Linked DNA regions of Homo sapiens: region 2 is linked to region 1. The links come from fine-mapping of genetic effects on gene expression. A gene starts in region 1. The other region holds a variant in brackets. All regions are shown on one strand. Distances are from middle to middle.

Region 1 (16,620 bases):
ATAAACAAAACATGGTATATCCATACAGTAAATATGGATCAACAAAATACGGTATATCCACACACTAAATATGGATCAACAAAATACGGTATATCCACACACTAAATATGGATCAACAAAATACGGTATATCCATACAATAAATATGGATCAACAAAATACGATATACCCATACAATACATATGATCAACAAAATATGGTATATCCATACAATAAATATGGATCAAGAAAATACGGTATATACATACAATAAATATTATGCAGCCCTAAGAAGAAATGAAATTCTGATACATGCTACAACATGGAAGAACCCTGAAAACACCATGCTAAGGGAAATAAACCACACACAAAAGGACAAATATTGTATGCTTTCACTTATATGAGGCACCCAGTAGAGGTAAATTTATTACACAGATGGAGAGTGGAATAGAGGTGATGAGGAGCTGGGGAGGGAAGAATGAGGAGTTACTGTTTAATAGGTACAGAGTTTCACTTTGGAATGATGACAAAGTTCTGGAGATAGAGGTGATGGTTGCACAAGAGAATGAACACATTTAATGTCACTGAATGGTACACTTAAAAATGGCTAAAATGGTAAATTTTATGTTATGTATATTTTTCCATGATTTTAAAAATGCAGACAACGTAAGAGTGAGTCTTTTTTTTTAAATCAAGGGAAGAAAGCTGAAAAGTATTCCTTTAAGAGCATCAAAGTGACAGAACACAGTCTGTATATATGATCTATAACCAAGGATATTAGTTAGAGGTTAGTTGTGTTTTGTTTTGTCTTGTTTTGTTTGTTCTGAGACAGTGTCTCACTCTGTCATCCAGGATGGAGTGCAGTAGCACAATCATACCTCACTGCAGCCTCAATCTCCCATGCTCAAACAGTCCTTCCACCTCAGCCTCCCGAGTAGCTGGGACTATAGGTATGTGCCACCATGCCACCACGCCTGGCTAATTTATTTTTAATTTTATTTTTTGTAGAGACAGGGTCTCCCTTTGTTGCCCAGATTGGTTTCCGACTCCTGAGCTCAAGTGATCCTCCTGCCTCAGCCTCCCAAAGTGCTACGACTACAGACATGAACCATCACACCCAGCTTGGGGGTTAGTTTTTACAGTATCCTTACAAGGACTGAATATTTGGTAGTGTACCATAACATCACCAAACTTTGAAAAAATATCTTTGATTCCAACTTAAAGTTTCAATCTTGTCATTCCTAGGTAGCTAAAACCAAATGAAAACGAACATAATTTTGTCTTCTTCCAGATTACAACAAGAAATAAAAGCAAATGTACTTATATCAAGACATAAACACTGAAAGAGAAACTATTATAATGGTTTAGTAAATCTCCAGGTAGTTGGTAATTTAAAAAATATTTTACTATTATATATATATATATCTCTCTCTGGGTGGCAAGTGACTTTTATTTTCTTAATATCTTTATTTTTTACCTTTTAAATAATGATTATTCTTCTAAACAATATTATGTTAGCCAAAAATCTAGGAGTCAGTTGATAGTTTCTCATATCCAAGAAATCACCACTTCTGTAGGTTTTACCTGCTAAATACCTCTTAAATCCACTCTTTTTCCCTGTCCCCAACAATGTCAAGCCCAGAGGCATTTTTTTTTTTTTTTTTTTTTTTTTTTTTTTTTTTTAGATACATGGTTTCGTTATGTTGGCCAGGTTGGTATTGAACTCCTGGCCTCAAGCAATCCTGCCACCTCAGCCTCCCAAAGTGCTAGGATTATAGTTGTAAGCCACCACGCCCGGCCAGAACAGCCTTTTTATTTACTTACTTTTATTTCCTTAGAGACTACATTGCCCAGGCCAGACTTGAACTCCTGAGCTTAAGCAATCCTCCCACCTCGGGCTCCCAAATGGCTGAGACTACAGGTGTGCACCACCGCACCTGGTTTACAGTAGCCTCTTAATTGGTCTCCCTGCATCCACTCTTGTTCTCACCATCCCTCCTTCCACCTCGTAGTGATCATTTCCAAACACAAATCTCAGTATGTCCTTCTCCTATGTCCACCTGCTCAAAACCTTACTCTTAGGATAAAATAAAAAAACATCACTTCAGCCTACATGCAAGGCACTACATGACCTGGCCTTGCCTATCTTTTCACCATCAGTTTAAGTCACATGCCCTTGCTCTTTGTGTCCTTCTACCCTGACCACAGGACCTTTATGCAGGCTATTCTTTTTTTTTTGAGACAGAGTCTCCCTCTGTCACCAGGCTGGAGTGCAGTGGCGCAATCTTGGCTCACTGCAACGTCTGCCTCCCGGGTTCAAGCGATTCTCCTGCCTCAGCCTCCTATGCAGGTTATTCTTTTTATCTGTAACGTTTTTTCCTCCCTCTCTTCAGTCGGCAAATTCTTAGTCATTCTTGGGCTCACAGTTCAAGCACCTCTTCTTCAGGAAGATCTTTCCTTCCCTAATCTCCCCAGTTAAGACAAATCCTCTCCCTCTCCCTCCCCCTCCCCCTCCCTCTCCCTCTCCCCACGGTCTCCCTCTCCCTCTCCCTCTCCCCCTCTTGCCACGGTCTCCCTCTGATGCCGAGCCGAAGCTGAACTGTGCTGCTGCCATCTCGGCTCACTGCAACCTCCCTGCCTGATTCTCCTGCCTCAGCCTGCCGAGTGCCTGCGATTGCAGGCGCACGCCGCCACGCCTGACTGGTTTTCGTATTTTTTTGGTGGAGACGGGGTTTCGCTGTGTTGGCCGGGCTGGTCTCCAGCTCCTAACCGCGAGTGATCCGCCAGCCTCGGCCTCCCAAGGTGCCGGGATGGCAGACGGAGTTGCGTTCACTCAGTGCTCAATGGTGCCCAGGCTGGAGTGCAGTGGCGTAATCGCGGCTCGCTACAACCTCCACCTCCCAGCTGCCTGCCTTGGCCCCGCAAAGTGCCGAGATTGCAGCCTCTGCCCAGCCGCCACCCCGTCTGGGAAGTGAGGAGCGTCTCTGCCTGGCCGCCCATCATCTGGGATGTGAGGAGCCTCTCTGCCTGGCTGCCCAGTCTGGAAAGTGAGGAGCGTCTCTGCCCGGCCGCCATCCCATCTAGGAAGTGAGGAGCGTCTCTGCCCGGCCGCCCATCATCTGAGATGTGGGGAGCGCCTCTGCCCTGCCGCCCCGTCTGGGATGTGAGGAGCATCTCTGCCCGGCCGCCCCGTCTGAGAAGTGAGGAGACCCTCTGCCTGGCAACCGCCCCGTCGGAGAAGTGAGGAGCCCCTCCGCCCGGCAGCCACCCCGTCTGGGAAGTGAGGATCGTCTCCACCCGGCAGCCACCCCGTCCGGGAGGGAGGTGGGGGTCAGCCCCCCGCCTGGCCAGCCGCCCCGTCCAGGAGGTGAGGGGCACCTCTGCCCGGCCGCCCCTACTGCGAAGTGAGGAGCCCCTCTGCCCGGCCAGCCGCCCCGTCCGGGAAGGAGGTGAGGGGGTCAGCCCCCCGCCCGGCCAGCCGCCCCGACCGGGAGGTGAGGGGCGCCTCTGCCCGGCCGCCTCTACTGGGAAGAGAGGAGCCCCTCTGCCCGGCCAGCCACCCCATCCAGGAGGGAGGTGGGGGGGTCAGCCCCCCACCCAGCCAGCCACCCCGTCCGGGAGGGAGGTGGGGGGGTCAGCCCCCAGCCCGGCCAGCCGCCCCATCCGGGAGGTGAGGGGTGCCTCTGCCCGGCCGCCCCTACTGGGAAGTGAGGAGCCCCTCTGCCCGGACAGCCGCCCTGTCCGGGAGGGAGGTGGGGGGGTCAGCCCCCCGCCCGGCCAGCCGCCCCATCCGGGAGGTGAGGGGCGCCTCTGCCCGGCCGCCCCTACTGGGAAGTGAGGAGCCCCTCTGCCCGGCCACCACCCCGTCTGGGTGGTGTACCCAACAGCTCATTGAGAATGGGCCATGATGACAATGGCGGTTTTGTGGAATAGAAAAGGGGGAAAGGTGGGGAAAAGATTGAGAAATCGGATGGTTGCCGTGGCTGTGTAGAAAGAGGTAGACATGGGAGACTTTTCATTTTGTTCTGTACTAAGAAAAATTCTTCTGCCTTGGGATCCTGTTGATCTGTGACCTTACCCCCAACCCTGTGCTCTCTGAAATATGTGCTGTGTCCACTCAGGGTTGAATGGATGAAGGGTGGTGCAAGATATGCTTTGTTAAACAGATGCTTGAAGGCAGCATGCTCCTTAAGAGTCATCACCACTCCCTAATCTCAAGTACCCAGGGACACAAACACTGCGGAAGGCCGCAGGGTTCTCTGCCTAGGAAAACCAGAGACCTTTGTTCACTTGTTTATCTGCTGACCTTCCCTCCACTATTGTCCTGTGACCCTGCCAAATCCCCCTCTGCGAGAAACACCCAAGAATGATCAATAAAAAAAAAAAAAAAGACAAATCCTCTATTATAACATCTCCTAGCAATAAATATTTTTCTTTTGCAATCTTTGTTAGAGACATAATTTTACATAGTCATAAATCTGTCAATGCTATTTCAGATGGTTTTTTGACAGCTTCCTACACTGGAAATTAAACCAATTTCAGAAAAGAACTGTTGTCTTCATTCCAGACTTTTCCAAATCACATATCCAACTGCCTACCATATTTCTCACTTGAAGGGCTCAAAAATACATGTACAATATGTGCAAAATTAAATCACTTCTACCCACCCCAAACTGGTCCTTCTCATCTTCCCTATCTCACCAAATGCACTGCTATCTTTCTTGTGATAAACACATCAAAAATCTTCAACACCTTCTCCATGCTGCCTCCCCCATTCACAACACACCAGGTCCTGAATACTCCATCTCCCAATTATTTCTTGACCTTATCCCACTTTTCACCCTTCACAACACCACCTCTCTGGCCCAGGTCATTATCATGTCTTTCTTGGGTTGCTCTAAGAGTCTCAAACTGATCTCTTCATAAACACTCTTGCCCTCTACCAGCCACTTTTCACTCAGCAGACAAGCCACTCCCCCCATGCAAATGTGAACATTTCCTTATTAAATCCCTTCAGTGGCATCCCAAAGCTATTAAGCTAAAAAAGTCTAAAATCATTAAAAAGGCAGGCATAATCCAGGCCTTATCTGTCCCTCCAACTTCATTTGTTGCCACTTTCCCCTTCCAGACATACTGGTCTTCTTCCATTTTCTCTGCTGCATGGTAGTCTGTCTCACCATCTCCTATTCTTACTGCCTGTAAGACTCTCCTCAACCTCCCACCATCGCCTTTCACCTCTGAAGGTCCACTAGCTACTCAAATCACACCCTAGGCATCATTTACTCAGGCAGCCTTTCTCTGACCCCACAATCCAATCAGATGCCCATCTACACGCTTTCAAAGCACCCTGTGCTGCTTCTCCCTCAGAGATCTTCAGTTTACTACTGGGTGTGTAATTAATTTGCATATGTCACACATAGACCTGCAACCATATCCATCCTAGTCTTTACTATACCCCCAGCAACCTGTATACAATAAATATTTTTTGAGTAAACAATTCAGAATTTGAGGGGATTAGTAGTCACCTGAAAGTTTTTCAGCATACTGTTACTACATTTTGCCCCTCACACTATGACTAAAAATGACTATATACCTGTCTTAATTTCCTAGCATTGACATACCCTTTACTGACCATCAGGAAAGAGGGGAGCATAAAACTAGGATGGCCCCCAGTTCTCAAGAAAACATCAACTGGGCAAGGTGGTGCATGCCTGTGTTCCTAGCTACTAGGGATGCCAAGGATAGCTTGAGCCCAGGAGTTCCAGTCCAGCCTGGGCCACACAGTGAGACCCTGTCTCAAAATAAACAAATACAAATAATAGACTTTATTAAAAAGAAAATATCCAAAATTAAAGTGTTGGCCGGGCACAGTCGCTCACGACTATAATCCCAACACTTTCGGAGGCCAAGACTGGAGGATCACCTGAGGTCAGGAGTTTGTGAGACCAGCCTGGCCAACATGGAGACCATCCTGGCCAACATAGTGAAACCCTATCTCTACTAAAAATACAAAAATTAGCTGGGTGTGGTGGCATGTGCCTGAAGTCCCAGCTACTTGGGAGGCTGAGGCAGGAGAATCACTTGAATTCAGGAGGCCGAAGTTGCAGTGAGCCAAGATCACGCCACTGCACTCCAGCCTGGTGACAGAGCAACACTCCGTCTCAAAAAAAAAAAAAAAATTAGCTGGGCGTGGTGGTGGGTGCCTGTAATCCCAGCTACTCGGGAGGCTGAGGCAGGAGAATCACTTGAACCCAGGAGGTGGAGGTTGCAGTGAGCCAAGATCGTGCTACTGCACTCCAGCCTTGGTGACAGTGAAACTGTCTCAAAAAAAAAAAAGAAAAAGAAAATGTTCTTTCTTGTGATTCTGGCAAGCAACAAAAAAAAGTAAACTAAGAGTAATTTCTTTAAACTGATGGAAAATATTTTCCCAATTTATGGGGGACATGTGACATTTATGCGGTATTTGTTCCACGCATAGAATGTGTGCTGATCAAGTCAGAGTATATGGGGTATTCACCACTTTGAGTATTTTTTATATCTATGTATTGGTAACATTTCAAGCCCTCTCCTAGCTATTTTGAAATATACATTGTTGCTGACTTTAGTCACCATATCCTAACAGTGACTTCAAGAGACAGTGGCATGTTAGGGCTCTGCCACACATTAAGGAAAATTCTACAGACTACATAGCTGACATCAGTGCACACACAACATAATACTCTGAATATATGTGAAACAAATTAAATTACAGACATGGCAGATTCGATTCATTTCCTACATTATTCAACTTTTCTGGTCAGAACAGATACAGAATGAGTAAATACAACCACTTCTTTTCTAACTAACCTCCCAATATAGGCAATGAGTTCTTAGCTAAATATAACCTATTCTTCAGAGTTTAACTGGGCATCAATTCTTTTTTTTTTCTTCTTGTTGAGACAAGGTCTTCCATTCTGTTGCCCAGAGTGCAATGATGGAATCATAGCTCCCTGCAGCCTCCAACTCCTGAGATCAAGCAATCCTCCCGCCTGAGCCTCCCAAGCAGCTGGGACTACAGGTACAGAGCACTGCACCTGGTTAATTTACTTCATTTTTTGTAGAAAGGGAGTCTGGCTTTGCTACCCAGGCTCTAGCTTCAATTTTCTACACAGAATTTACCCATCTGGCATTCCATATATTTTACTTACTTTAAAAAATCTCCCGTCAGTAAGTTTCAAGAGGGTAAATATTTTGTCTGTCTTGTTCACCGCATATCCCAACGCCTAAAATAGGGCCTAAGAGAGTAGGCACTCAAGTATTTGTTGATTGAAACCACGATAGAACTCTTCCCTGTCTGGACCACCGACACAAAGCACCCTCACTGAGTTTCAAAAAAAGCTCAGCCCATGGACTGGAACTTTTCTTCCCGGTTACTTGAGTCAGTCCAGAAAGCCACAGTTAATAGTAGAACCCTGAGAATGAGGCTTTCCCTTTTTTTTTTTTTCTTTCTCATCTCCATGCTTCTGTTTCCTTGGTTCCTCTTGACCATTAACCCTCTTCAACTACCACTCTCTTGATACACAGCCTGTAAAACAGTCTAAATTCCAATTTCAGAACTTCAAATTCTTTCTGCACAGATCCCTCCCACTTCCACACCAATCTACATCTTCTCTCTTCGCCTTCTCTCATAAATCCGACGTTTCCCACTAGTCCTGCCACTGCCGTTCTTTCCATGCCCTCATTTTATCAGCTCAGTTTGTCTTCCCGCCTCAGTTTTGGATCTCTCTAAACCTCCTAAACACCGGGGAGTCTTTCCTACTTCAGTCCTAGTCTCTATTCTATTCGCCAACTCCTCCCACTCATCCACTCTCAACACCCCCGCGTGCGCACACACAGCCACATCAGGTCTCCCCTCCTAGACCCCGAAGTCGGCACCTCACTAGCCCAAAACTCAAGAATGAGGAACCCGTGTGATCCACGGGTTAAGTGACCCATGATAGTAAATCTGCGTGAGAGATATAAGTGACCCACCTCTGAGGCCGAGGTTCCTGCCAGACGTCGTGTCTGGCGTGGGCCTGTACAACCCTAGAATCTTAAAGCAGCCGCATAGCGAAGCTCCTAGAAACGCAGATGATACGCTCCCAGCGCGCCGCCATCTTGTGAAGCCATCTAGCCTCGTGATTGGACACATCCCTCTCGCGCGACCTGTGGCTGATCTTGAAGAAAGAAGAAACCCTCGCGACACCTGGGGTTTGCTGCTCCTAACAGAAGGCGCGGGGGCGTGGTGACGAGCGGAGTCCTTTGAGGTATGGCAGGAGGAGGACATGCGTTCGAATTCGCGAGAAAACTTATTTAAAAGAAAAAGAAACAAGTTTTCCGGGCCCTGCTGCAGACTTACCTCTCACACTCACTGGGATTGGGCAGGTTATGAAGATGAGGGTACGAGACTTGGGTGTGATGGCGTGCAGTGAGCCCTTTTTGTGCAACAGGTGTGTCCTCAGCCGATGTCTCACTCACTGAATTGTAAGAGATATAAGCCTGTGGGTTGGGGAAGAGTACTCTCGTTTACAGCGAAAGAACTGAGGATCCGGCCGGACGCGGCGGCTCACGCTTGTAATCCCAGCACTTTGGGAGGCTGAGGCGGGCAGATCACCTGAGGTCAGGAGTTCAAGACCAGCCTGGACAACATGGTGAAACCCCGTCTCTACTAAAAATACAAAAATTAGCCGGGCGTGGTGGCGGGCGCCTGTAATCCCAGCTACTCGGGAGGCTGAGGCAGGAGAATCGCTTGAATCCGGGAAGCGGAGGTTGCAGTGAGCCAAGATCGCACCACTGCACTCCAGCCTGAGCGAAAGAGCAAGACTCTGTCTCAAAAAAAAAAAAAAAAGGGGGGGCCTGCCTACGTCCTCGTCGTTAATGTGAACGCTTCTGGCAAACTATTACCATAAAATTGGGAGATAGTAAGGATTAAGGAATGGAGACTTATACACAAGTGAGTACCAGTAGTCACCCAAGGAAAGCTGAGGAGGTGTTTTCATAATCTGTTGTGTAACAAACCGCCCCAAAACGTAAGACTTAAAACAACCACCATTTTACTTGCTCACAGTTCTGCAATCTGGGCTGGGATTAGCCCACCCGTTCTGCTGGTCTTGCCAGTGGTCATAGCAACAAGTGGGGGCTGGTTCCGCTGAAAGAACTGGGTCTCTCTCCCTGTAGTCCAAGTTCTCTCCCTGTCCACGTGGCCTTTCCATGTAATTTGTCTAGCAGAGTAGGATGACATTTTTTTTTTCCCCCGAGATGGAGTTTCTTATTGCCCAGGCTGGAGTGCAATGGCGCCATCTCGGCTCACTGCATGCAACCTCTGCCTCCTGGGTTCAAGCGATTTTCTTGCCTCAGCCTCCCAAGTAGCTGAGTAGCTGAGATTACAGGCGCCCGCCACCATGCCCAGCTAATTTTTTGTATTTTTAGTAGAGACGGGGTTTCATCCTGTTGGCCAGGCTGGTCTCAAACTCCTGACCTCAGATGATCCACCCGCCTCGGCCTCCCAAAGTACTGAGATTACAGGCATGAGCCATCGTGCCCCGCCAGAATACTTCTTACATGTTGGCTCGGGGCTCCCAAAAGGGCAAAAGTGGAAGCTGCCAGGCCTTCTTAAAGCGTAGGTGCAGAACTAGCACCTTGGCTATATTCTTGGTTAAAGCAAGTAGAAGGGCTAGCCCCAATTCAAGGGGAGGGGACTATGCCAGGGTCCCTTCCAATACTGGAAGGCATGGTTCATTTCAGCAACCAATGTAACATATTACCACAGAAAGTTTTCCATCTTTGGTTGGTAGTGGCTTTGATACTAGTTATGGCATTTTATTTAGTGCATGCTGCTGGAAAGGTAAAAGAAAAGATGGCCTCGGAGATAGGACTGGTGGGGTTGAAGTGATTGTATTTAAGATATTGGTAACTTTCTGTTAGCTCCAAAGAGCAACCCAGTTTACCTGTAGGTCGGGCCAGAGAGACCCTAGTAGCACTGCAGCTGGGAAACCTGGCCTTTAATCCTGCCCCCACCATTTACTAACCCTGTGAGTATGGGCAATTTGCTTAAACACTTGAAGGCTTAGTTTGCTCAATATTACAAAATAGGATAATAATCTCATGGGGTTGTGAGAATTAAATCAGATAATGCATATAAAACAGCAGAATGTCTAGTATATAGTGAGTTCCTAATAATAATAATATTGTTCCTTATAACTTCTCTGGTCAGTTTTTTTTAAGTATTCCATAAAGATAAAACATTTTAATAACTGAAAATTTTTAAATAATTTAAATAATACATAAAGATATCAGAAAGACAAAAATTATCTAAAATCTCACCACTCACAGCCAAGCACCATCAAATTTGGGTAACCTTACTACTAAACCTCTATATCTCATAAGGATATATAACCAAATAATTTTTATACAAATAATAATATATATTTGTATATATATGTAATTACATATATATACACACACACACATGCACATATACTCAAATATAACTCTTGGAGATTCTTCCACTTCCAACAATATAGCTCTTTATTGTTCTTTGTGATAGGTGCACAGTATTCCATTGAATGCATATAACACTTTTTTTTTTTTTTTTGAGACAGAGTCTCTCTGTCGCCCAGGCTGGAGTGCAGTGGCGTGATCTCGGCTCACTGCAACCTCCACCTCCTAGGTTCAAGCGATTCTTCTGCCTCAGCCTCCCGAGTAGCTGGGATTACAGGTGCCCACCACCACGCCTGGCTAATTTTTTTGTATTTTTAGTAGAGACAGGGTTTCACCATGTTGGCCAGGTTGGTCTCGAACTCCTGACTTCGTGATCCACTCGCCTCGGCCTCCCAGAGGGCTGGGATTATAGGCCTGGGCCACCGCACCCAGCTGGATATACCACTTTTTAAAAAACTAATTCGTGCCCAGGTTGGGTTGGCCAGACCTATAATCCCAGCACTCTGAGAGGCGAAGGCAGGTGGGTCACTTGAGGTCAGGAGTTTGAGACCAGCCTGGCCAACATAGTCAAACCCCGTCTCCATTAAAAATACAAAAATTAGCTGGGCGTGGTGGCGGGCACCTGCAATCCCAGCTACTCGGGAGGCTGAGGCAGGAAAATCGCTTAAACCCGGGAGGCAGAGGTTGCAGTGAGCCGAGATCGCGCCATTGCACTCCAGCCTGGGCAACAGAGTAAGACTCCATCTCAAAAACAAACAAACAAACAAACAAACAAACAACAACAAAAAAAAAACTAATTCCCCTGTGGATGGACATAGGTTCTTTCCAATGTATCTGGTATGACCTATTCCCAAATATTGTGGTACAATGATAAATACATATCCTTGAAAACTTTTTTATATAAAATGAAAATTATCTGGAGACTCCACAGAATAGATTAACAACATCTGCCTTTTTCCAAATTTACCCTGAAATGTCCAAGGATGTAATTGGTCAGAGAAGTCTCTCAAACTTCCATACCACAGCAAGGACAGTGCAGATGTCCAATTAGCCAGTTACATCCTTTGCTACCTCTTTGTAGCAGGAAACTGATTCTGCACATCCAGTGAATAATGCTGCTAATTATGAAATGTTGCCTAGCAAGTTATCAGAGCTGCTTTCAGCATCAGCTGCCTACTGGACTGGAATCAATCCTTGAGGGCATCAGACTGGACTCCCTCTTGACTGAAATTAATTATTTCAAGGACTTTGTGGCCCTTCCCTGTCACTGTCCTTTGGCCACAGCCAGCCTGTCAACAGCCACAGGTCTCTCTAACTTTGTATTTCAGAAAGTAATCATTGAGTATCAATTTCTTCTAGCTTAGAAGACTCTAGCTTCCTTATGTAAATGTATCCACCTCCTTCTTAGGGACCAAGTTTACATATCAGGGATCTAATAGCCATTATAGTTGTCACAAAAGCTATATCCAGGCAGGTGCAGTGGCTTACACCTGTAATCCCAGCACTTTCGGAGGCTGAGGAGGGTGGATCACCTGTGGTCATGAGTTCTAGACTAGCCTGGCCAACATGATGAAACCCCGTCTCTATTAAAAATACAAAAAATTAGTCAGGCGGGGTGGTAGATGGCTGTAATCCCAGCTACTTGGGAGGCTGAGGCAGGAGAATCACTTGAACCCAGGAGGCAGAGATTGCAGTGAACTGAGATCACGCCACTGCATTCCAGCCTGGGCAACAGCAAGAGTCCATGACAAAAAAAAAAAAAAAAAAAAAAAGATATCCTGTTACAGAACAATTATTTTTTCTCAGCTTACATTTACATAACTGAGAGAGCCACTGAAGTGATCCTCTGCACTAAGGATACCACATTTTCTTTTTCATTTCTTTACGGTTTTTGAGACAGGATCTCATTCTGTCACCCAGGCTGGAGTGTAGCGTCATGATCACAGCTCACTGTAGACTCGACTACCTGGGCTCTTGAATCCGGGAGGCAGAGGTTGCAGTTAGCCAAGATCACGCCATTGCACTCCCCCCTGGGCAACAGAGGGAGACTCCGTCTCAAAAAATAAAATAAATAAATGAATAATGATAGCTGGTGGAAGAACTGGATATAAATGTACATCTTACTACTGCCCTGCTTCCTGTTCCAAGTCTCATAAAACAGAACATACTCATTTTAAAAATTAAACAGTAAATTTCAAATCGAGCTGAAAATTCAGAATTAGTGTTATTGACACACCAGAAAATTTGAGGATACTCTGAAAAAATACAGGGTGAATAGGAAGACCATCTAAAATGCCAAGAAGTTTTATAGGAAGCTTAAGATGATTATAACATTTAGCTGGAAAACAAAATGTGCAAGAATAGCCAATAATGATGTTTTCCACTTGGAAAAAAATTAAAATTACACCATACATAAAATAATCCCATATGGATTAAGAAACAAAATAATCATAAAAACCAAAAAAAATTGACCAGGTACGATAGCTCATTCCTATAATCCCAGCACCTTGGAAGGCTGAGGCAGGTAGGTTCGCTTGAGCCCAGGAGTTTGAGCCCTGCCTAGGAAGCCAACATGGCAAAACCCCATTTCTACAAAAAATACAAAAATTAGCCGGGTGTGGTGGTGTGGGAAGCCAACATGGCAAAACCCCATTTCTACAAAAAATAAAAAAATTAGCCGGGTGTGGTGGTGTGGGAAGCCAACATGACAAAACCCCATTTCTACAAAAAATACAAAAATTAGCCGGGTGTGGTGGTGTGTGCCTATAGTCCCAGCTACTTGAGGGGCTGAGGCAGGAGGATTGCTTGAGCCGAAGAGGTCGAGGCCACAGTGAGCCATGTTCATGCCACTGCATTCCAACCTGGGTGACAAAGCGGGACCCTGTCTCAAAAAAAAAAAAAAAAAAAGGAAATCTATATCTACTGACACAGAAAATTTCCAAGATATGGAATAAGGTAAAAGGAAATTGTGAAACAGTAGGTTCAGTTTGATATTGTTTATATAAAGTAAAACCAGAACACATTTCAATATGAAAATATAAAGCATAAAAGTAGCCGTAGAAAAAGATCTGAAAGGAAAAACCCAGACTGAGAACAGCGTTACCTTAGGGAAACCTCAGGAAAACTGAGTTGGAATGTTAGAAGTGGGACATGAGAGTCTTTAATTTTGTCTATATCATTTGAATGTCTTACAATGATAATGGATTCATACATCATTTGTATGATTTAAAAAAAAATGATTTAAAATAAGAAAAAGAAGAGAAAATCAAATTTGTCAAAAAAAAAAAAAAAAAACCACACACACACACACAGCCTGACACTTATGCAGGAAAAGACAGTTTGGAGGGGAAGCAAAGCCTCCTGTGGCCTCAGCAGCTGCTCAGGACAGCCATCCTCCATGTGACGATTCTATGATCCACATAGCCACAGTCTGCGGCACCACCATGTCAACATGGGCTTCCAGGACCCCTGCAAAAAGGAGAGAGAGAGGATGGCTTTTCAGAGCTTCCACTCGGAAGTGAGACGCATCATTGACAACCAAATCAACTCAGATGTCCCCACCTAACTTGGGGTGGGGAAGAGGGCAGGCCTGCAGTCCCTCCATGTGCTCAAAATACTGCTGAAGAGTGATGGTGTTCACTACACACACCTCATCCACAAGCACCACAGACAGACAAAACAGAATCAAAATGTAGACGAATAGGGATTATACTCTAAAATGAGCAATTCCTCAAAAAATTAAAAATAGGATTACCCTGTGATCTGGCAATTCCACTTCTAGGTATATAGCCCCCAAAACTGAAGGCAGGATCTCGCCTACCATCACACCTGCCTAATTTTTTGTATTTTTAGTAGAGACGGGGTTTCACCGTGTTAGCTGGGATGGTCTTGATCTCCTGACCTTGTGATCCGCCTGCCTGGGCCTCCCAAAGTGCTGGGATTACAGGCGTGAGCCACCGCACCTGGCCTCCATGTCAGCCTCTTAAGTAGCTACGACTACAGGTGCACACCATCACATCCAGCGAATTAAAAAAAAAAAATTTTTTTTTTTTTTTTTTTTTTTAGAGACAGAGTCTTGCTATGTTGCCCAGGCTAGTCTTGAACTCTTGGCCTAGAGCGATCCTTCCTTCCAGCTGGGCCTCCCAAAATGCTGGGATTACAGATGTGAGCCACCACACCCAGCATGAATACCTTTTTTTTTTTTTTGAGATGGAGTCTCACTCTGTCACCCAGGCTGGAGAGCAGTGGCATGATCTCAGCTCACGGCAACCTCCGCCTCCTGGGTTCAAGCAATTCTCCTATCTCAGTCCTCTGAGTAGCCACCACACCTGGCTGATTTTTGTATTTTTAGTAGACACGGGTTTTTACCATGTTGGCCAGAGTGCTCTCCTGACCTCAGGTGATCCGCCTGCCTGCCTTGGCCTCCCAAAGTGCTGGGATTACAGGCATGAGCCACTGCGGCCGGCCCGCGTGAATACCATTTTTAACACATCGATTTGAATCGTCCTGTTGGTAATTCATGTACTTCCCACATATGCTTGAGTTTATTTCTAGACTTGTTTCATTGATCTGTCAGCTTATTTCTATACATGTACACATTTGTTTTAATTAGTGTAGCTTTCTATTACTATGCAGTATAATATAACATAAGGCCCCTATGTTAATCTTGTTTTTCAGAATTTGCCTGACTCACATGTCCATGCAATAAACTCCAGAACCATTTTATTAAGTTTTCTACAAAAATCCTTTTGGGATTTTTTTATTGTTATTACATTTTATATAGATAGATGAATTTTGAGAGGATTGGCATTTCTTCAATATTGACTCTCCTACTCATATTTAATAAGACTTCATCCTAGAATACAAGACCATTCACAGCAGTTCCAATCTACCTTTTCCTTCGGCGTTTAACTACCTTCCAGCCAAATTCACTATGATCTGGTCTCTGAACATATTCTGTGTTCTTTTCTGCATCTCTCTTCACCCAAACTAGTCTCTCTTTCTGAAACATCCTCCTCCTCTTCTTCCCACAGTTTCCTGGCCGGGCACGGTGGCTCATGCCTGTAATCCCAGCACTTTGGGAGGCCGAGGCAGGCAGATCATGAGGTCAGGAGATGGAGACCACCCTGGCTAATATGGTGAAATCCCGTCTCTACTAAAAATACAAAAAATTAGCTGGGCGTGGTGGTGCACGCCTGTAATCCCAGCTACTCGGGAGGCTGAGGCAGGAGAATCACTTGAACCCAGGAGGCAGAGGTTGCAGTGAGCCGAGATCATGCCACTGTGCCACTGTACTCCAGCCTGGGAAACAGAGTGAGACTCTGTCTCAAAAAAAAAAAAAAAAAAAAAAAAAATATATATATATATATATCCTCCTCCTCTTCTTCCCAGTTTCCTTTTTTTTTTTTTTTTTAATGAGACAGAGTCTCCTCTGTGGCCCAGGCTGGAATGTAGCAGTGCAATCTCAACTCACTGCAACCTCTGCCTCCCAGGCTCAAGTGATTCTCCTGCTTCAGCCTCCTGAGTAGCTAGCTGGGATTACAGGTGCCCGCCTCCCTGCCCGGCTTTTTTTTTTTTTTAAAGAGATGGGGTTTCACCATGTTGAACAGGCTCAAATTCCTGACCTGAAGTGATCTGCCCACCTTGGACCCCCAAAGTGCTGGAATTACAGGTGTGAGCCACCATGTCCAGCCTCCTTCCCACAATTTCTACTGTCCCACAGCCTACATATACTTTCATGTCTCATTACAAATTGCCACTTAACCCATAAAGCCTTCTTCATTCTTCCATCCAGATGTAACCTCTAGCTCCGTTGAAGCCCCATAGCATTTGTTTCGTCACTTTCTTAGGGTACTCACTCAAATTTGCCCTCTGAATAGTTATTTGCGTTTCTTTTATTGGCCCACAATCAACAACAGTTCTGTATTACAGCAACAGGTCTCAACTAGGAGTTCACGTCAGAATCTTGGAAGACCTTTTTAAAAAATCCAAATGCTAGCCAGGCGCAGTGGCTCACGCCTGTAATCCCAGCACTTTGGGAAGCTTAGGCGGGTGGGTCACCTGAGGCCAGGAGTTCGAGACCAGCCTGACCAAAATGGAGAAAACCCCATCTCTACTAAAAATACAAAATTAGCCTGGTGTGGTGGCACATGCCTGTAATCCCAGCTACTGGGGAGGCTGAGGC
Region 2 (11,750 bases), 90 kb before region 1:
TTTTGTTATTCCTGTCACAACTTAGAAGTTCGAGTGCTCACATGGTAAGCTTTGATTTCCATCGAGAGGAAAGGCTTTATGTTTTATAAAAAATATATACTAAAGTAATCTACACGAAGCTTAGGATGAGTTGAAAGGGTACTGCCAAAACGCGGCCCTGCCCAGGACACACAGCAGAGGTCTGGAGTGGGGACAGTGCGGCCAGCATGTGTGGGGAAGGAAGCAGGCTGACGGAGGCAAAGCAGATTCCGAAGAACAAAAGCAGCTTTAGTTTGCCTGGGCAACAGGCTCAACTTCTGTCTCCACTTCAGTTATCAGGAGACCAGAAGCCGATTCTAGGGACCAGAAGAGAATGTAGGGTCACATCACCAAGATTTAATTTCATACCAACCCCGCAACATGAATGTGACCTCTGGACACCGGGAGAGTAACACTCAAGGTTATGACATATGAGTCAATAACCCATTTCTTCAAAGAAAAACTTGCCCACCTGTACCAGAGGTATATGCTATGAAACAACACACAATTATAAAGCATATGCATGACCAAAACAATGCTTAGATGTCCTTTAAAAATATTTTCAATGTTCTCTCACTAGGTAGCCTAAGAAAATCTTCTCAGGGAAGGAAATGGAAACATCCAAATGCACAGAAGGCACTCGGCTCCAGACTGAAAGCTGGCCTGCTCATGGGTTCCTTTTTTTTTTTTTTTTTTTTTTTTTTTGAGACAGTCCCACTTTGTCGCCCAGGCTGTAGTGCAGTGGCATTCTCGGCTCACTGCAACCTCCACCTCCCAGGTTCAAGCGAGTCTCCTGCCTCAGCCTCCCGAGTAGCTGGGATTACAGGCACGTGCTATCATGCCCGGCTAATTTTTGTATTTTGAGTAGAGACGGGGTTTCGCCATGTTGGCCAGGCTGGTCTCAAACTCCCGACCTCATGCGATGCGCCCATCTCAGCCTCACAGTGCTGGGATTACAGGCGTGAGCCACTGCGCCTGGCCACGGTCACGGATTTTTTAAAACTCTAAGGTCATTAGCTTGACATCTATAAAATCTCCTCCATGACATGAAGCCTTAAACCTAGGGACAGAAACACACTGAGACACAGAAACACCTTCTGTGCTTCAATACACAGAGCATTCTCTGGAAATCCCTACGACACAGGCTTAAAGGCCAGTGCTGTGCCTGAAAGACATTTTGAACAGGCAAGGAGTGTAAGCTAATACACTACTGTTACAACATGGACAAATACTTGTAAGATGTTAAATGAACAAAGGACCAGAATACAAAACTGAATACGCAGCATGAGGACAACCAAAGTTAAACCCACACACTCACACACCCCGTCTACAGAGAGACTAGAAAGGAACACGCCAATGCCAAGAGTGGTTATGTTACAGAAGGTTGGGACTCGGGGTGATTTTGTTGTTTTGACTTTCATTTTTCCAAATCTTTAATGAGCATGTGCCACTCTTTCATAATGAAACAAGCAAACAATAAGTACTTACTACTTACTGAATGAATAGTTGCCACTTAAACAATTATCCTAAAATTATACCAAGGAAACTAGGTTTGGGCCCAGCAAATGACTCAAATGTAATATTCACTCGAGGTAAGGACAGTGGGGTGGTGTGGGCTGGCACAGCAGAAAATTTCTAGACCAGGGGAATCCACGGTCCTGAATTGAGTCTTGGCTCTGTGTGACCCTGGGTATTGTTTTTTGCAGCCTGACACATGAATGCTTGGACTAGAATAATGATTCTTAATCCTTAGTGGGTTATTGACCCCTTTGTCTGTGTCTGAGGGTTCTGGGAACCCTCTCTCCAGGAAAAAAAATACACACACACACACACACACACACACATGCTCACAGAGCTTTTAGAAGTAACTCTAGGAGGTACATGGACTCTCTGGAGGTCCACGGACCAGGTTAAGAACACTGGTCAGAGGCTGGGAGTAGTGGCTCACGGCTGTAATCCCAGCACTTTGGGAGGCCAAGGTGGGCGGATCACCCGAGATCATGAGTTCGAGATTAGCCTGGCCAACATGGTGAAATCCCATCTCTACCAAAAACACAAAATTAGCCAGGCGTGGTGGCGCGTGCCTGTAATCCCAGCTACTTGGGAGGCTGAGGCAGGAGAATCGCTTGAACCCGGGAGGCGGGGGTTGCAGTGAGCTAAGATCGCACCACGGCACTCCAGCCTAGACAACAAGAGTAAAACTCCACCTCATAACAAACAATCAATCAAAAAGCCACTGGTCAGTATGCTGCCTTCTCCAGCTCCAGCTCCACAGCCAAGTTAAGGCACAGCAGTTCCGCTTCCTGTGTCTCTGCCGAGGGCCTGATCTAGCTGCTGCCAAGACATGCCAAGGTCACCAGCTTCCCGTCCTGACCAACAGCCACCTCTCAGAAGGCTGGCTTAACTACTCAGCCCCAGTCTTCTTAGCAGATGGCAAGGAGCTCTGGCCAAGATTTTAGTCTAAACAGAACCCTAGGCTGCTGATGCAACATCAAGCACAGCAAAAGGTCACCCCTTTCCGGGGGGACGGCTACTGAACCCTGGCATTCCAATTAGAAACGTGTTTCAAGGACACAGTTACTCCGGCCTCAGAACTCTCCAATGTGAGTAGGTAAGTACAGGGGGGATTACAAGTGAAGCCACAAAAAAACAGTATTTGATCAGCAACAAAATATCTGAGACTTTCTTAAGCTACCTACGGCACATACTATTTTGTTCTATTTCTCATTTCTATCATCAGCCGCTCACTCAGCTAACCCCAGGATTCAAATAGGACCGCTGGTTTTTAATTTGTGAATATTCTTATTTAAAAACAAAACAAGCTCTACTTCAGATGTCCAAACAAAAATCACACAGTAGTAAAACTGCTACAAAATGGTACTGTCAACAGGCTGGAGGTGGGGGTATGGGTGCCTTCTGTGTGCCTCAGTCACACCGGGGAGTTTTGCTTACCTAATTCTGCTTCTGAAATAAGCAACATCAAAACAGCCAGGTGTCAGGAATGTGCCATTTACCGGGTGGTCCCCAGACTCTGCTGCTCCTTCCCAGCATTACTAAGGTTTCTCTCCCAGATTCCCCACCACCCACCATACAGCTCCCTTTGTGGGATTGATGCAAGGTAGGCCCCATCTTGAAGAGTGACCTAGAACAGGGTACCAGGGCCTCCAGCTGGAGGCAGAGAGAGCCACCCCTCCTCAAGAAACACCCTTGGGTGACAGAGACAGCATGATATTCTAGGCAGTGCTGCCCAGCCCAGACTCCACAAACAACCCTTCTGACCTTGCAGAGGCAGTCCAGAGCTGAGGGGCCAGCTTGAGCCAGCTTGCAATCCCTCGGGAGTTTACTGAGGGCTTTCTGTTGTTACTGATGACCACAATTCCTCCTTGTAAATGACCACACTACGACTCCCTGTAACTCAAAAAGCGGGAAGGAGGCGGGGGGAGGTGGGGGACAGATTCATAGGTTTTTGTTTTCGAAGATAATTCCACATCGTGCTACTAATGGGCCGCTGGTAGGATTCCTCTTGCCACCCCACAGGCCACTCCAAAGCAAGTTACTATCAACACGTTTCCAACTGTGCAGGAGGTTTCTAGTTAACTGCAACAAGCCTGAAAATTTGGTTACGTATGTAGGTGCAAAGCTGGTTCATCAGATCCCTGTTCTGGCCCTCAACCCAGTGCATCTCCACTAAGGCATCGTCCACCTCCTTCTTAACGTTTATCAAACACTTAAACAGGTACTGTCCGGCCACTCCTGGGAGACGTTTCCCCCTTTCAGCCACTGGGCTGCCGAACTGCTCAGAAGCCTCTTGGTCCTGGGCTCCGTTGCTAGAGCCTTGACAACTTTCCAAAACCTCCACCCCTCCCTTTTCCTCACTCCTTTCATCCTCCGTGGGTTCCGGGTTTTCCTCCTGGGACAGGGACTCCTGGCTCGGGCACGGGCCCTCCACAGCGGCAGCCTCGCCTTCCCGCAGAGCAGGCCCACAGGGGGTCCTCTCCTGGGGGCCCCTGGCCAGTTCTTGGCTATTGCCAGACTCTTTGGGGGTGGGCTTTTTCTCTTCCAAGGCCTGAATGACGTCCTCAGGAGCTCGGGGAACTTCTCTCAGCTGTCTCACACGCTCTCTTTTCTTTCTCCTTAAATGAATCCAGGAGTTTTCTATGGCCGTTAGGAAAAGGCTGACTTCCTCTTTTCCACAGGGAACTCGTTTATGCTGGACCTGTTTGGAGGAAAAACAGAATTTTGTGGGAAATCACGTTTCCCCTCTCTCCAAACTCTCAATAAAAAAAAAAAGAAAAAAGAAAAAAGAGAAGGATCATTATGAGTACTTCGTCAATATGGTTAAGCAGGTACCTTCAAATCAGTGAGAATTTTTTCAATCCATGTCGTGACAACGACTATGCCTTCCGCCGTCTCCGAGCGCAGAGGTGATGCTTTGAGGGATAATTCCTTCATCACGGACGCCAGCACCACGAATGTTATGGGTTTTCTCGGTTTCTCTAATTTTCTTCGCTTACTTGGTGGTGACTGCAAGAAAAAGGAAGCATAGAAAAGAGAAGAAAGTTATCCGAATAATTAAACCTCATGCATTGTAATGAACTCAGAGAAAATTTCCACAACTTCTGCTACCAATCATAGAGCACTGAAAACACAAAGGGTTTTGTGTGTGTTATGTCCAGCACTTAAAACAACCCTGCAAGGTGCAGTCATTCACGCCTATAATCCCAGCACTTTGGGGGGCCATGGCAGGAGCATCACTTGAGCCCAGGAGTTTGAGATCAGCCCCAGCAACATAGTAAGACCTCCATCTCTAAAAAAACGTTTAAAACTAGTCAGCCACAATGGTGTATGCCTGTGGTCCCGGCTACTCTGAAAGCAGAGGAGGGAGGATCATTTGAGCCCAAGACTTCCAGGCTGCAGGGAGCTCTGATTGCGCCACCGCAATCTAGCCCAGGAAACGGGGTGAGACCCTGTCTCTTAAGAAAAAAAAAATTTTTAATTAAAAAAATAAGAACCCCACAAGATAGTTTAGGCATCTCCAGGAAAACGAAGATACAGAAAGGCTATGTCACACAGCTCAAGGTCACACAGTAACTGCAGTTAGGACTGAACGCCGAACCCACGTTCTTTCCAGCCGCACCGCACTGCCTTTGTTCTGGCTATCAGATGTAACTCCTCCAACTGCTAAACGTCCTTCGTGTACCTGTGGTACCCAAAGCAGACCTGCACAATTATTTATTTCATGACAACTCGAGGACCCTGGGGGCACTGTGTTCTTGGCTGGAAAGAACTGCAGGGCAGAAACATCATCAACTTGTAGTTTGAGTTTATATTGGCTGAGGCTTGAGATAAAGCAGCCGGTGAACCACAGCC[A/G]TGAGATGACATGCGAGGAAGGATCAGGGCCACTAAGATCACGTGGGCAGAGGAGGAGGACTCCTGAATCGTGGCTGATGTCGGGACCAAGCCGGCGGCGAGCTAAGCACTGCCTTTTAGCTGGGGAGGGTGACACCGGCGCTGATGAGAAGACTGGATTTCAAAGCTGGTTCCAAGAAAATCACGACTGGCATCTTCCATTCTATCTCAAGCTGGGAAGGTGAATTATACCCTACCCACTAGAGGGACTCAAGTTCCACTTTAAAAACCAATGGCACCTGCCGGGCGCGGTGGCTCATGCTTGTAATCCTAGCACTCTGGGAGGCCGAAGCAGGCAGATCACTTGAGGTCAGGAGTTCAAGACCATCCTGGCCCACATGGTGAAACCCCGTCTCTACCAAAAATACAAAAATTAGCTGGGCATGGGGGCACGCACCTATAATCCCAGCTACTCGGGAGGCTGAGGCAGAAGAATTGCTTGAACCCAGGAGCCAAAGGTTGCAGTGAGCCAAAGGTTGCAGTGAGCCGAGATTGTGCCACTGCACTCCAGTCTGGGCCTGGGCAACAAGAGTGAAACTCCGTTTTAGAAAAAAAAAAAAACAAAACCAATGCCACCACTGTATTGAAAATTTATTTATTCATTTATTTATTTTTGAGATGGAATCTCACTCTGTCACTGGAGTGCAATGGCGCCATCTCGGCTCACTGCAACCTCCACCTCCGGTTTCAAGCGATTCTCCTGCCTCAGCCTCCCAAGTACCTGGGACTACGTCACCAAGCCCAGCCAATTTTTGTATTTTTAGTAGAGACGGGGTTTCACCATGTTGGCCAGGATGGTCTCGATCTCTTGACCTCGTGATCCACCCACCTCGGCCTCTCAAAGTGCTGGGATTACAAGTGTGAGCCACCGTGTCCAGCCTGAGAATTTCTTTCTTTAAAGTAGAAACTTTAGGCTGGGTGTGGTGGCTTATGCCTGTAATCCCAGCACTTTCGGAGGCCGAGGCGGCCGGATGGATTGAGCTCAGGAGTTTGAGACCAGCCTGGCCAACATGGTGAAACCCCATCTCTAGTAAAAATACAAAAATTAGCCGGGTGTGGTGGCCGCGCCTGTAATTCCAGCTACTCGGGAGGCTGAGGCAGGAGAATCACTTGAACCCAGGAGGTGCAGGTTGCAGTGAGATGAGATTGCGCCACTGCACTCCAGCCTGGAGACAGAAGGAGACTGTGTCTCAAAAACAACAACAACAAAAAGGATAAAAAAGAAAAAACACCAAGTCAGGTTTGAAGATCTTTTTCTGCTAAAAGGAATCTGACGACTGCTACTGATCATTCCAGTCGTACCTGGCCACACTGACAGCGCACACGCACACATGCAGACACCACAGGTTCTGATTACTGGGGGACGTCTTCTAATAAGAACTAACCAGCGGCCTCACACTGCATACATACACAACAACCTAACCAGTTTATTCTATACTAGGAAACTGTTAGGGAAGGATAAAAAACAAAGGGTGTGTGTGTGTGTGTGTGTGTGTGTGTGTGTGTGTGTGTGTTTGAAGAACCTGCTCTTGAGAAATGAATAGTGGACTCTAAGACCTGTCTGAACCTGAACTTGTTCAATTATGTTTCAGACAAGATGAGACAAATTCATATTGACATTAAGACAGTCATATTGTTATTACTCAATCATCCTGCATGAGAAACATAATTTCTAGTCTACTGAGAGCCTAACGCTTTGCAGTAAGGAGCTTACAATAAGCGTATTAAGCTGGGGAAGAAGCGTATTAAGCCGGTGTGTGGGAGGATGATGGGGGTGGAGAATCAGACTCCCCATTCCCCGTCCCAACATCAAAGGCCATGACCATGGAGAGCTCACTGCAACCTGGCCCTCCCTGCCAGCCCGCCCTGTACAGCAAAGGTCACCTACAAGCATGGCTAAAAGGGCAGCACTTCCCATCTCTTCTCACAGAAGGAGTGATCATTTTGCTCACAAATTCTGACCAGTAAAGTCAGGATATTGCTGTTTCTCATTATGCTAAAGCTGACCTGCGACACTCTTTCTCCAAAAGTAAGGACGGGCTTCATCATTTCTAGAGATTAAAATAAGAAAATACATCTTTACCAACCTGACAAGAACTCTATCAGGGATACTTTCAGAGTTCTGAGGAAGTCAGAAATCACAAAATCGACAACTTATTACCCAGTTATCTCAGGACTAAAATGAAAACTTCCCTCTCTCAAATATGGCTCCTTCACCTGCATCCTGACCCAACTTTCCCATATACAATGGTCAGTCAACAAACTTGATATTCCTGAAGATTTTTTAAAAAATTTTCCTTTTATTTTATTTTATTTTATTTTATTATTTTATTTTTTTTTTTGAGACGGAGTCTCGCTCTGTCGCCCAGGCTGGAGTGCAGTGGCGGGATCTCGGCTCACTGCAAGCTCCGCCTCCCGGGTTCACGCCATTCTCCTGCCTCAGCCTCCCAAGTAGCTGGGACTACAGGCGCCCGCCACTACGCCCGGCTAATTTTTTGTATTTTTAGTAGAGACGGGGTTTCACCGTTTTAGCCGGGATGGTCTCGATCTCCTGACCTCGTGATCCGCCCGCCTCGGCCTCCCAAAGTGCTGGGATTACAGGCGTGAGCCACCGCGCCCGGCCTTATTTTTATTTTTTAAATAGAGAAGGGTCTTGCTATATTGATTGCCCAGGCTGGTCTGGAACTCATAGGCTGAAGCTCTCCATCTGCCTCAGCCTCCCAAAGTGTTCGGACTCCAGGCCTGAGCCACTGCGCCAGCTGCATTCGGAAGATTTCTAATGAACTGCTCTAGCACACACATGCACACACATCATCTCAGGACGGTCTTCAATTTGGCTTTGCTCTACTATAGAAACTAGACATTAAGAGACAGACAGGCCAGGCGCAGTGGCTCACGCCTGTAATCCCAGCATTTTGGGAGGCTGAGGTGGGTGGATCACAAGGTCGGGAGATTGAGACCATCCTGGACAATATGGTGAAATCCCATCTCTACTAAAAATACAAAAAATTAGCCAGGCGTGGCGGCACACGCCTGTAGTCCCAGCTACTTGGGAGGCTGAGGTGGGAGAATGGCGTGAACCCGGGAGGCGGACCTTGCAGCGAGCAGAGATCGCGCCACTGCACTCCAGCCTCGGTGACAGAGCGAGACTCCGTCTCAAAAAAAAAAAAAAAGACAGATAATTCATACTCCAGGAGTTCTCAGGCAAGGCTTTTAAATGATGAAAGATTAACTGAAGTATGGCTCACAGCAGTTGTTCAGTCCCCTCTTATTTATCATGAAAAGTCCTCGTGGGCAGGGTCACAGTAAAATATAGGATCAAGTTCTAAGAAATTAATAGTTAAATTCAACACCACAGCTCTCTGGTCGTAGGCAATTTTTACATTTTGCTGCAAACACTAGTACATAGAAGCTGTCAGTTTTTCCCCAATTGAAATGATCTTATTTTGCTAATATCCTTATAATTGCAAAACACAAATATTTTAAATGAAGAGTGCTACACTCAAACTGTCATAATCTAGTTTAGCAGGCAAGGCGTACATAAATAATTCAACATTTTAAAGTCTACCCCAAAACCAATCATTTACAATGATTAATCCAGTTTAATGCAAAGAACTAGGTGAATTTACAGCTGATTTTGGATTTGAAGATGCACTGCTGGAATTACAATGTGAGAGAAGCCTGGTGAGCAGTCGTAGGTCTGCAGAGACCACAGGTTTTATATCTTTTGAATTCCAAGTAGTCAAGGAATGATCATCAATAAGAGAGGAACTGCAAGCGTTAAAAACACATTAGATCACAGAAGCCATCAATCAGGCACAAACAAACAAACAAACAAAAAACCAGTTCTTAAATTTTAAAATATGCTACGTAGCAGGGTGGTCTACAAATTTCTTTTCTTGTCTTTTTTTTTTTGAGACAGGGTCATGCTCTGGCACCCAGGCTGGAGTGCAGTGGCGCAATTACGGCTCAGTGCAGCCTCCACCTCCTAGGCTCAAGTGATCCTCCCACCTCAGTCTTCTGAGTAGCAGGGACTATAGGTGTGTGCCACCATGCCTAGCTAATTTTTGTATTTTTTGTAGAGATGGGGTTCTGCCATGTCGCCCAGACTGGTACAAATTTGAATCTTCACTTTAATTTCTAAATCTCAATGATGCCATCAGCCAAGAAACTTTCACATGTGGTGTAGCTTGACACAGATCAGTGTAGCATGTTATGTCTCCGTTAATTATGGCTAAGGCAAAAAAAAAAAAAAAAAGCCACAGGCTGAATGAAATCATTAAATTCTCTCTAGTATTTGCAGGAAGAGAAGAGCCATTCTACAGAGAAATCTGGTGCGCACGAAGCCACAACCTCTTTGTTTTGGCAAAGCAGCTTCTAGAAAAACCTCAAGTGGAAAGGGGACAGGGCAGAGAGGAGACCCCAGTGCAGTGGCCGTCTGTTTTTTAAAAGAGATAGGGAGTTACAATGTTGCCCAGGCTGGCCTTGAACTCCTGTGCGCAGGTGATTCTCTCACTTCAGCCTCCCAAGTAGCTGCAACTACAGGTGCACATCACCACACCCAGCCCATTTCTTTCATCTTAATCTGACAGGTCGTTGTTTAAAATGTCCTGAAATCACCCCCAGGAGTACGTAAAAACAGTAAAAAGTAAAAATAGCAGCCGGGTGCCATGGCTCACGCCTGTAATCCCAGCACTTTGGGAGGCTGAGGCAGGTAGATCACAAGGTCAGGAGATCAAGACTAGCCTGGCCAACATGGTGAAACCCCATCTCTACTAAAAATATAAAAATTAGTTGGGCATGGTGGCACGTGTCTATAATCCCAGCTACTCGGCAGGCTGAGGCAGGAGAATTGCTCGAACCAGGGAGTCGGAGGTTGCAGTGAGCCGAGATCACGCCACTGGACTCCAACCTGGGTGACAGAGCAAGACTCCGTCTCAAAAAAAAAAAAAAAAAAAAAAAAGTAAAAATAGCAAGGGGAAGAAAACTATTGCAGAATGCTACCTATTTAAGAAGGAATGATTATAAATACATACGTGTATTTCTTTGAATTTGAAAAAATGGGTCAGGCACGGTGGCTCATGCCTGCAATCCCAGCACTTTTGGAGGCCAAGGCAGGCAGATCACTTGAGGTCAGTAGTTCCAGACCAGCCTGGCCAACATGGTGAAACCCCATCTCTACTAAAAATACGAAAAAAAAAAAAAGAGCCGGGCATGGAGGCATACACCTGTAATCCCAGCTGCTCGGAAGACTGAGGCAGGAGAATAATAGCTTGAACCCAGGAGGCAGGGCCTGCAGTGAGCCGACATCGTGCCACAGCACTCCAGCCTGGGCAACGGAGCAAGACCCTGGCTCAAAAATATAAATACAAATAAAGGAATGATAAATTATAAAACTGTTTAAATAGTAACCCATGAAGAAGTAAAGGATTAGGGTGAATGAGATAGAAGAAAGAAGTCAGACTTCTGACCATTCTTTTGAGATTTTTTTCATTTCACAGGTAGAGAAATAAGAAATATATTTTATTACAAAACAAAACTAACAACAAAAAAGGCACTCCCTAAAAATCTGAAGATGATGAAACAAACGAACCTCTGTCCTGACTCCATGCAGAAAATTCAGAGTGGAAACGTTCCAAATGACTTTGAAATCCATCATGAGAGTCTCCAAGGACAAAAAAGAATTGTAAAAGTAAAAAAGTAGCTATTTTCAGAAATCACTTTGTTGATGGTAATGTTACTTTTGAGACTCCTGGGGCATATTGTGAGATAAAGTTAATGAGTAATATGTTGGCTGAGGACTGGAGTTTTTGGCATGGGATTCTTTTATTTTTTTAAGAGATAGGGTCTTCTGTGTTGCCCAGGCTGGCCTCAAACACCTGAGCTCAAGTGATCCCCCCGCCTCAGCCTCCTGAGTAGCTAGGATTACAGGCGTGCACCACCGCAGTCACAGGATTTTTGAATGGGAGATACAGATGGACAACTGATGAAATTAAGTAAAAACCCACAGATGTGAAGCTGAATAAAGTATCAGCAAGTATATGCTGGGTACAGTGGCTCACACCTGCAATCCCAGCACTTGGGGAGGTCGAGGCAGGAGGATCACTTGAGCCCAAGAGTTTGAGACCAGCTTGGGCAACATGGCAAAACTCCATCTTTACCCAAAAAAAAAAAAAAATTAGCTGGATGTGGTGGCAAGGAAGGAAGGGAGGGAGGGAGGAAGTGGAAGAGGGAAGGAGAGGGATGGGAAAGGAAGGGGAGGGGAGAGGAGGAAAGGAAAAGAAAGGAAAGGAATCAACAAGAACTTGCAACATATTTCATCT

What was found.
Region 2: its variant is fine-mapped to the expression of METTL16 in whole blood (INTERVAL, PIP 0.99).

What each region holds. Positions count from the first base shown.
Region 1 is chr17:2,503,771-2,520,390 of GRCh38, forward strand. It overlaps METTL16 (methyltransferase 16, RNA N6-adenosine), which reads right to left and starts at 8,118. Exons shown (of 10, transcript NM_024086.4): 1 at 7,989-8,118. RefSeq lists enhancers at 2,174-3,085, 3,086-3,996, 7,989-8,198, 8,269-8,318.
Region 2 is chr17:2,416,363-2,428,112 of GRCh38, forward strand. It overlaps METTL16 (methyltransferase 16, RNA N6-adenosine), which reads right to left. Exons shown (of 10, transcript NM_024086.4): 9 at 4,369-4,542; 10 at 1-4,234. The coding sequence ends at 3,608. Among named protein-coding and RNA genes, the nearest start is that of MNT, 21 kb to the left of the region's middle. The variant A/G (reference allele first, on the strand shown) is at 5,389.